Regions from separate parts of the Homo sapiens genome. Here region 1 is linked to region 2. Evidence: fine-mapped expression QTL. Tissue or cell type: whole blood. Region 2 holds a variant in brackets; the other region holds the start of a gene. All regions are shown on one strand. Distances are from middle to middle. Region 1 holds the start of RTL5 (retrotransposon Gag like 5). Region 2 overlaps NHSL2 (NHS like 2).

Region 1 (5,299 bases), 33 kb after region 2:
CTGATACAGGAATCTGTGCAAAGGTAAACTCAAGTGCTGTAAGTGGAACCAGCCTGCACAGTCAGTCAAGGGCAAATCTCCGTCAAGTTGTCCATTTGACATGTGGCTTTGCACACTCTCACTGGGCTAGATGTCGGGTCCTCTTCCAGGCCCTCTGCTGGAGGTGTGGCATGAAATGAGTGTAGGATTCTAGGGACATTTCTGGATACCATCCTGCTCACCATCGATTATATCTAGCAACTGGCCTCAGTGGCTTTAGGAGTTCAGGGTAGCCTGTCCTCTTGCTCATTGGGGCAGATCAGTGAGGCATTGGGTGAAGTCCTGGTGGGTCAGTCAGAGAATAAAACTGTAGAACATAGGGTGAAGAAACGCAGGAGAGGTGAGGGTTAGGAACAACCAGAGGGGAAATACAAGAGGGTGACCAGTTCATTTATGGGAACAGGCCCAGAAACTTGCTCTCCAGCTCGTGGCCGGACTGAGCAGAGTACATGCCAAGAGGGCAGCTATTGCTGATCCCTCCTTTCCCAGGTGGCCCTGGTTGGGCACACGTCGCTCTCTGGTCACGGTTGCAAGATGGTCTGGAATTCTGCAGGTCTTCTTCAGGTTCTGCAGGTCTGAAACTCCCTGAAGTCCTGGTCAGCAAATGGGGCAGGTATGGCAGCAATAGCAGGGGCGGGGGATGCAAAAGAAGGGTGTGTTCTGGGTGGCCATCTGGCCCCAGCACTCAAACTCGAATTCGGCCACGAGCAGCTCGGTGGCCCCCCTGTCTCGGAGTGAGGCGGAAAAGCACAGGGGGGCGTCTTCGAACTTGGCGTTGTCCTAAACGACCTGTGCGGCGAATCAGTTGGGGGGAGCTGTAGAATGGTGAATTGGTGCCTGGAAGGCCTTCCAGAAGTGGGACTCGATTCTGGTTCCTCCGTCTGCTAGGCTGTATTATGGGAGGTGATGCACCCAGGAAGTTTTCGGCGTGGTAACCACTTGTGGGGCCAGAAGTCTGGGATGACGCGTGAACAAAGGTCGGCTCCATCTCCATCAGCTCATCTAGGTCATCATCTTGGGCCTCATCCAGTGGCTCCTCCTCCACCTCACCATAGGTCTCCTCAGTCCCTGGATCCTGCTGTGGCTCTCCTTCTGGTTTCTGGCCCCCATCCTCATCTTCATCTTCTTCATCCTTACTCTCTCCTTCCTCCTCATTCTTGTTCCTTATCTCCTCCTCCTCCTCTTTCTGTTTCATTTCCTCTTCCTCCTCCTCCTCCTTCTCTTCCTTCTTCTTCATTTCTTCCTCCTTCTTCATCTCCTCCTCCTCCTTCTCCTTCATCTCTTGCTGAAAAGCCCTCATGCGCTTCCTCTGGTCCTTGGAGTGAAGCCTGTGCCTGCGTGCCTCTTGGTCTTCATCTTCACTGTAGTACTCTTCATCTTCACTTTCTTCCTCATTGGGACTCGGAGCAAAAGGGAAGATGATATTTCGAACTCCAGGGAGCGGGATAGGCTTGGGAACGCGCACTTTTCTTTCTATCTCCACACATTCGAGAATCAGCTCATCCAGGTCGGCCATTTCTGTTGACCATAAGAGCTCTTTGCGGAAGAATTCCGACAGGCCTTTGAGGAATTGGTTTTGGAGGCGGCAGTCATCCCAAGACAAGAATTGGGCCAGGAACTGAAAAGCATCTGCATAGCTGCCGAGGGTACAGTGGCCCTGCTTGAGCTTGCGAATGGCCTTTTTAGCCACACGTGGGGGGATGGGGCCACAGAATTCCTTACGGATTTCATCCAGGAAGCGCGGGAAGTTGGCATGCAAGGGGCTTCCTTCCTGGGTGACCGAGATGGCCCAGTCCTTGGCTTCGCCAGTGAAAAAGGAGATCAGAAAGGCCACCCGCTCGGCGCCCCCGGGGAAATGAACCTCATGGTCGGCTATGAAGGTCTCTAGCTGCATCAGGAATTCAGCCAGGTAGACTGGGTCTCCTGAAAAGGGCTCTATCTCAGGCCGCTCCAGCGGTGCCAGAGGGGGTTGCGGGGGCGGTTCCTTTGACGCGGGCGGAGGCAGCGCCGGCGGGGGCGGGATGGGCAGCAGAGGGGGGTCAGCGGGCCCGTCGGGGGTGCTGCGATCCTGGATCACGTTAATCAAAAGATCATCCGAGATACAGTCGGGCTCCGCGCGTGGGGGAGGCCGGCACAAGAAGGGCAGTTCTCCCCCGGGAATGACTTCGATCTCACTGAGCGCGAACTCCAAGTTCTCCTCCGCAAGGACGGGCACTATGGGTACTGGCCAGCGGATGTAGCTGGAGACATTGCCCCGCAAGGAATTAACCTCGGCCAGGGCTCTCCCGAGCTGGAGGCCCAAATTGGCATTCTCCCCGCGAAGGGCATTTAATTCTTCGCGCAGGGCCACATTCGCCATGCGGAGGCTGTTGAGATTTCCTGACGCCTCAGACATCTCGACAAGCCCAGGGGCCCTGGGGCTCCGTGGTGGGGAAAGGGGAACTGGAACTACGGGCGGCCGGAGGAGGCCGAAATGCGGCGGCGGGGCTCGGGAGGGACCGAAGTGCGGCAGCGGGGCACGGGCCAGGCCGGGCCACACCCACCGGGGCGAGCTCGGAGGGCGGCGCTCTGGGCGGAGGGCCCGGCGGCTCGGCCCAGGGCGCGTTACCTCGTCGCCGGGGCCGGAGAGGGCGGGCGGAGGCACGGGGCCCGGAGGCGCCAGGCGGAGGATGCGGGCGACACGGTGGCGGCGGCGACCGCGCGACCGGGCGGGCGGGCGGGCAGGGGCGAGCGGAGCGGGAGGGAGCGGACTGCGGCAGGATCTGTCGAGGAAAAATCTTGCGGCCGGCGATTCCCCGCCTTTTAAGCGCAGCCTCGCACTCCCCCCACCCCACGCAGGGGCGGGCCTTGGGGAACCGCGGGCGCCCACTGGCCGCCGCGCGCCGCTCCCCTCCAGCTCGCCTGCGCCTCTCACTGACTCTCTCCTTCCCTAGCTGCAGCTAACTCGGGTCGGGAAAATGCGACAGCGACTGCCCACTCGAGGTCGTCATGGCGACAGCCAGTGAACGTGTTCCTCTCCTCGGGCAGGCCCCCGAGTGTAGAGGAGCTGCTTCGGGAGGCGCAGCTCAATCTCCAGAGCCTGTTGCAAGGTACCGAGAGGGAGGGGGGCTGCGGCCGGAGCCCAGAAGCGAGATGCGCAGCGGCAGGAGGGAGGCAAAGAAGAAAGAGGACAGGGACCAGCAAGATAAAGACAGAGAGTTTAAAAACAATCGACAAAGCAGTTTCCAGCTTTCACCTTTCAGCCTAATGATTCTGAAAGAGGCTATTTCCAGGGCTGTTTCCCCCCATCCCCAGCCCCTTTTTTCAGCTCAGTAGCCCATGGGGAAACAAGGACAGAGACTGAGGCAGGGCCATAAGTTATGCCATTCACCGAGAGCTGGGTGGGAGACTCCCACAATGTGGGCCTACATTCCCTCCAGCCCCCCTCTTGCCACATCGCCCATGCCTTTGGGATCCTGGCACCAGAAGACAAAGGGGGCATCTGCAGGATCTCCCACTCTGGGCTTCACTCACTCTGCTCTTGCAATAACCCCTGGATAGCTACTGCCTCACCAAAGTAAGCCCAATACACAGCACCCAGAGGTCACCTATTTTGTCCCCCCTAACCAAGCCTGAGCTTCTCGATGTAAAGAATCACATCTTGCTACCCTTAGGTTTCCAGAAGCACCTGGCACAAGGCTGGATTCCCTCCCCACCTGCCAAGAGGTGCTCAGTGGATGTTGAGCATGAAAAGAGGTCTTGTCAGCACTCCTTTATCTATACTAATAAAGGTTAACTCTAATGGCGAATAGAAAACTGCTGATGGGCCACCAACAGGATGACAGCCATAACCCCCACCCCCTACCAGGGCAGTGGTGACCTTGGAAAAGCAAGATGCCAAGGGACACCATGAGCCTTGTGTTCAGATAACAAAGGACTTGCCACACAGAAAAAGAGTCGATGTGCTCTGTGTTGCTACCATGGCAGAATTAGGACCAGTGGGTGGAAACCCAGAAGGAGGCACATTCCACCTCCAGATAAGGAAGAACTTTCTGACACACCTGACAGCCCCAACTGTCCGTGGAAGAAATGAGCTGCCTTGGGAGGGAGGGAGCTCCCCTTCCCTGCAGGTGTGTGCGCTGAGGCTGAAGAAACACCTAGAAGGGCTGCTGAGGAGGGAGTCTGGGCACAGAATGAGGCGTTGGACCAAAGAACCCCAAGAGCAACCCCAAATCTCTGTGATTCTGAGTCTTTGTTCAGTGTACATACAGCATGAATGTCCCTTCTCTACTCTCACTTTCTTCATGTATTCTCATCAAATTCATCACTTCAATCAACCCTATTCAAATCTTGTGCATCCTTACTCACTGATGATGCCGCTGAACTTCTGCCTCTTTTATGCTGTTACCTCCTCCTTCCCTCTCCTTCACCTTAGCCCTCCTAGACCTGACATCACTTACAGCGGGACTAAGGTGCAGGGAACACGGCCCACAAAGGCTCAAGTAAAAGTTCTTGACATCCAAGAAAGAACTCCAGATTGGACTTCCTGGTGTAAATCTCTTCTTGCTTCACACAGGTCATTTCCTTGGTAGGGTCGCAGAAAACCTTAAGAGCTGCAGGGCTTCAAAGAGAGGAACTTGCAGTCCAAAGTAGCAAAAGGTGTCTGCATTCTGAGCCTCTTTTCGTAACTGAGCACTCAAGGTGGGGATCATTGAGATAAGGGCTTGGTCCCCAAACCACCACAGCATGAATTTATTGACTTTCTCTTCTCCTCGATCCTCATGGTCCTGGGAAGCAAGCACTTTTCCATTTCCAAATCCAGTGGCTCAAACACCTGGAAATAGCCTAAAGAAAATGCAAGTCAGGCCTGGCAGCTAGAGCAGGAGTCCTGGCTCATGGCCCTTCCCCGGCCCAGCGCTCGGCCATGGCACCCTAGAGTGTGTGTCTCCACTGTGCTATTTTTCAGAAGAATATGAGGAACAGTACTCGGAGGCCAGACTTGTGGGGCAGACCTTCCGCTCTTCTGATGAGGCCACTAAGCCCACCCCCAACCCAAGGCCCCAGTCTGCCAGGCGTCTGGAGTTTATATTGATGGTGAGTTGCCTCATCCCCCACCTGGGAGAGCCAGCATGCACCCACTGACAAGAGACCTCCAGCTGCTTACTTTACCCACTGGAAGCTGCTCAGCCCTGCTCACCAGCAGAGCTACCCTGAGGCCCCACTGGGATAGGCCCTGCACAGCAGGTGCCTGGCCTGGTGGCCTGTCCACGCTTTCCTGCCT
Region 2 (5,372 bases):
AGGGTTATGACAGGGTTATTCTGAGCATCAAATGAAGTTTTTGTTACCTTTAAAGCACTGTACAAATGTGCACTGCTAAAATCCATTCCTTCATTCAACAAATAAGTGTCTACTACATGCCAGGCATGAGGCCAGGCCTGAGATTACAGTGGTCATCAAAACAGACAGGGTTCCTGCTGGCACCCTGAGCTTTCAGGTCACAGGGGTAGACATATTAGCCAAAGATCTCCTCATCCGAGGTCCAAGCAGAAGGGAGATGCAGTAGGGCTGCTCTTTTAAAAAGCTGACTGTGGCTGCTTCGTAGAGCCAGAGGGCAGGAGAGGGGGCTGGGAGGCCACTTAGGAGACTTCTGCCTGCAATAGTGGCTTGGTCTAGGGTGGTGGCAGTGCTGATGGTAAGAAATGGCCAGATTCTGGACAGATTTGGTAAGTAGAATCAACGGAACTTGGTGACGGACTAACTTTTGGGAGTGAGGAAGAGGCAAGGAGATATTTTAGCTAACTGTGTCCCCAGGACTTGGGCCACTGGAGCCCATAAAGCCAATCCCAAGGCTGGTGAGGTACAATGTATGGAGGGTCCATTTCTCCTTATCTCGCCTCTGTAGAGCAGTATGATGTCAGTCCTTCAGTCCAGAAATCAGCTTGCTAGACTTAATCTGAAAAAAGCATTTAGTACTTAAAAATTGTATAGGATAATATATGGCATTCTAGCTTTATGTTGAACGCAGAATTCCTCTTAAAGGTAAATTGTTTGCTTCCAATTTTTAAGTTGTTTTAAAATTGACAAATGTAATTATTTGTACATATACATGGGGTATACAGATAATGTATAGTGATCAGATCAGGGTAATTAGCATACCCATTATCTCAAACATTTATCATTTCTTTGTGTTGGGAACATTCAGTATCCTCCTTCTAGCTATTTGAAACTATATATTATCATTTGGGTTTTTTAATTCTTTCTTCTTTTAGAGACTGGGTCTCACTGTGTTGCCCAGGCTGGACTCAAACTCCTGGGCTCACGCGATCGTCCTGCCTCAGCCTCCCGAGTAGCTGGGACTACAAGCACATGCCACCATGCCTAGAAATGATACGTGATTTTTAACTATAGTCATCCTGCAATGGCATAGAACACTAGAACTTTTTCCTCCTCCCCAGCTGTAATTTTGTATAATTTAACAAATCTCTTCCTAGCCCTCCAATTTTTGAATGGGATATTACTTTAAAAATAGCTGAGTTACCATTAACTTAGGATGCTGAAAACGTTCTTCAGTCTAGGTGATCTCTTCTGGGACCAACATATGTTCTTTGAATTGGATTCCTTTCAAACCTTGGGCCCAGTAGTTTTTGTACCAACAGGTTGGAAGAGAAGAGGGCCCAAAAGGGGAAGAAATGGGAAGGGCCACAGACAAACTTAAGTTTCATAACAGTTAACCACACTTAACCGCAGTTAACTATGCTTTACAGCTTCCAGGGGAATTTCACATATATCATTTGTTGTCATATTCTGCAAATTCAGGACCATGGCTGTCTCCTGACTCCCCGTCCAGTGTTCCTGCTACTGATTGCACTGCCAGGTTCTTAACTTTTTGGGGGAGAAGGGGGAGGGGAAGGTCTCTCTGTGATAAACAAAAAAGTTCCAACAGACATTCAAAACCCTTCTTTATTCTAAAGAATTTATTCCATTTGCATTGAGAAGGAGTGTAAAAGAAAATTTGGTATTTTCCCACACCACTTGTCCCCTACACACATCAACAGGTCTTTCATTTCTCAGTTCTTGCAGACCCACCCTTCGGAAGCTATTATCTGCTTGACAGTCTGCTGAGACCTCTTGTCTTTCTTCCTCTCTCAATTAAACTCTAAGGACTGAGGTTCCCATCTGCCCTGGAGCAAACACATCTCTTGTTATACCTGTTTTCCAGAAGCTGGAGAGCTTTTTTCCTTTCTCCAACCGCTATAGTTCTCTTTTCAAAACACTTAAACCCTCTTAGTGATTTTTAACTGCAGGTGGCAATTAAATTGGTTTCCCAAACATGGACCAAACCTTCTCTCCAGTGCCTCCTGCATTTACCCTGCCTCCACCCACCCTTGAACCAGGAAAGAAAAAAACACACAGACACAATTTACTGAGTTATTGTCCTCTCTTCTGTGTAGCCCTCTCTTAACATGAATGTGGCAAAATTGCTAGGAAGAAATGGTAGGATGTATTTCCACTAGGTAGGTCTCTTTCTCCACAGCGGCCATCTTTGATTATTGTGTCTGGAATCGAGCAGTACCCAACCAACATGGTGCCCTTCCTCAGGCTCTTCCTTGGCGGGAAGACAGAGGCAGCAGTTGAGCAAGGGGAGCCAACAGAAGTGGAATGGCTCCTCATTCATAGACCCTTGTGGGTTTTGAAGGAGAGAGGAAAGAGAAGGTTTGGAAAGAATAGGACAGAAAGGGAGGAATAAGAAAGAGGAAGTTGGCCGGGCGCGGTGGCTCACGCCTGTAATCCCAGCACTTTGGGAAGCCGAGACGGGTGGATCACGAGGTCAGGAGACCGAGACCATCCTGGCTAACACGGTGAAACCCCGTCTCTACTAAAAATACAAAAAAATTAGCCGGGCGTGGTGGCGGGCGCCTGTAGTCCCAGCTACTCAGCTGGCTGAGGCAGGAGAATGGCGTGAACCCGGGAGACGGAGCTTGCAGTGAGCGAAGATTGCGCCACTGCACCCCAGCCTGGGTGACAGAGCAAGACTCCG[T/C]CTCAAAAAAAAAAAAAAAAGAAAGAGAGAAGAAGTTGAAAGGGGTGTTTACAAGTGGAGGAATAGAAATAAAGCTATGAATTGAATAATAGAAACTCTGATTTTTAAAATTTTATTTTATTTATTTTTTATTTTAATAGTTTTATGTTACGTAAACCATTATATGTTATTTTTAAATATATGAAAATAAATATATTTAATGGTTTGTTATTGTAAAATGACACGTTTGTTGTTAAAATTTCAAATAGTACTGGAGAGTTTCAAGTGAAACATACATGTCAAAATCATCTAGAATAACAGTTACTTGTGTGTCCTTGCAAACTTATTCCGTGCATATATAAGCATCTGTGTGCTTTTGATACACAAATGAGATCATACAATACATACTGGCCCATTCCTTGCCCATTTTTTTCAACTTACCAATAACTCTGCAGTTTTCTAGTTTCTACTCAAAGAGATATCCTTCATTCTTCTTAATGGCTGCATATCATCCCCTTGTGTAGATGCACCATGATGTGTGGAACCCATCCCTTGTTAATGGACATTTAGGTAAAATAGAAAGTCTAGCACCACACTATCCAATAGAAATATAATGTGGGCCACAAATGCCAGCCACTTATGGAATTTTGAATTTTGTCTTAGTAGCTACATTCCCCTCCCCAGCTGATTTGAAATGCCACCTTTATTATATCCTAAATGCTCATATATACATAAGTTTGTTTTGAACTATTTTATTTCATTCATCTATTTGCCAATTTTGGCACCAGTATCCCCTTGTGTAGGAATTTTTTTTTTTTTTTTTTTTTTGAGACGGAGTCTCACTCTGTCACCCAGGCTGGAGTGCAGTGGTGCATTCTCGGCTCACTGCAACCTCTGCCTCCCGGGTTCAAGCAATTCTCCTGCCTCAGCCTCCTGAGTAGCTGGGATTACAGGCCCCCACCACCACACCTGGCTAATTTTTTATTTGTATTTTTAGTAGAGATGGGATTTCACCATATTGGTCAGGCTGGTCTCAAACTCCTGACCGCATGATCCACCCACCTCAGCCTCCCAAAGTGCTGGGATTGCAGGCGTGAGCCGCCACGCCGGCCACCAGTATCCCCATTTCTAGTAGCCACATTTAAAAAGTAAAAAGAAAAAGGTGAAATTAATTTTAATAATATATTTAATTTACTCCAATATATCAAAAATAGTGTCTTACAATGTAATCAAATATTAAAAATTATTAATGGGATACTTTACATTCTTTGTTTCATATTCAGTCTTTGAAATCTGGTGTATGTTTTACACATCCAGCACATTTCAGTTCAGACTGCCAATTTCAAGAGCTTAAGAGCCACATGTGGCTTCTGGCTACCGTATTGAACAGTGGAAGTTGAGCAGGCAGAGAGATTCAAAATGTCACCTGAGCTGTGTGTCTCTGTGGTTGGTAGGAATGGATTAGAAGGTCAGACATTGAGGACAAAATCCTCAACTTCACCACTCAAGGCAACTCATGAAGCTTCTCAGGGTCTTGGTTTGTGGACTCCAATAAATTCAACGTATGCTGGTTGAGTGCAGACCAGAACAGCCGAGCCAAGTACAGTCAGGCCTCGCTTCACAATGGGGATACGCTACGAGAGAAATGCGTCATTAGGTGATTTCCTCATTGTGCAAACATCATAGAGTGTACTTACACAGACCTAGATAGTGTAGCCTGCTGCACACCTAGGCTATATGGTACAGCCTATGGCTCCAAGGCTACAAACCCATACAGCACGTGACTGTGCTGAATACTACAGGCAGTTGTAACACGATGGTACTTATCTGTGTATCTAAACATAACTAAACCTAGAAAAGATAGAGCAAAACTATGGTATCATCTAATGGGGCCACTGTCATATATGCAGTTGTCATATATGCAGTCCATTAAGCAGGGGTCCTCAACCCCTGGGCCATGGACCCGTACCAGTCCATGACCTGTTAAGAACTGGGTCACACAGCAGGAGGTGAGTGGCAGGCGGGCGAGCATTACCGCCTGAGCTCCACCTCCTGTCAGATCAGCAGCGGCATTAGATTCTCATAGGAGCAGGAACCCTACTGTGAGCTGTGCATGTGAGGGATCTCAATTACTTGCTCCTTATAAGAATCTAACTAATGCCTGATGATCTGAGGTGGAACAGTTTCATCCTGAATCCATGCCCCCACCCAAGTCCGTGGAGAAATTGTCTTCCACAAAACCAGTCCCTAGTGCCAAAAAGGTTGGGGACTGCTGTGTTAACTTACATGCCATTATGTGGCATATTGCTGTACAAATGGCCCTGGCCTTTCCACAAGCCGTAGCATGGCCACAGAGATATAGAAAGAGCCTGAGTGCTCACGAGGTGATTATCTGAGGTCTGTCACAGGTTCCCCTTTCTTTGCTTTCAGAGGCATCTCTGTTCACAGCGTCTCATCACACTCAAAACCCAATGCCTGTTTCCTTTTTTTTTTTTTTTTCAAAAGCAGAGTGTGTGGCAACGGGGCTCTGAGGAAATCCCTACCACTGTGGTTGGGGAGGGTGTGGTGTGAAGAACCCACATTGTGGCTTACTCAACTGTGAGATCTTAACTCTGTGGCCCCAGAGCCACTGTGCTCCTGGGCGGCAGTGGTG

Evidence for each region. PIP is the estimated chance that this variant, and not a neighbour inherited with it, causes the effect. A credible set is the group of variants that fine-mapping cannot tell apart.
Region 1: it holds the start of RTL5, and the variant in region 2 is the best candidate, but not a certain one, in a credible set for the expression of RTL5 in whole blood (TOPMed, PIP 0.79).

The regions. Positions count from the first base shown.
Region 1 is chrX:72,129,107-72,134,405 of GRCh38, forward strand. RTL5 (retrotransposon Gag like 5) reads right to left here and starts at 2,809. Exons shown (of 1, transcript NM_001405151.1): 1 at 1-2,809. The coding sequence starts at 2,434. The coding sequence ends at 725. It overlaps NHSL2 (NHS like 2), which reads left to right. Exons shown (of 8, transcript NM_001013627.3): 2 at 2,973-3,128; 3 at 4,985-5,112. RefSeq lists silencers at 2,600-2,669, 2,830-2,889.
Region 2 is chrX:72,095,837-72,101,208 of GRCh38, forward strand. The region is part of intron 1 of NHSL2 (NHS like 2); the gene reads left to right. Among named protein-coding and RNA genes, the nearest start is that of RTL5, 33 kb to the right of the region's middle. RefSeq lists a silencer at 5,281-5,372. The variant T/C (reference allele first, on the strand shown) is at 2,741.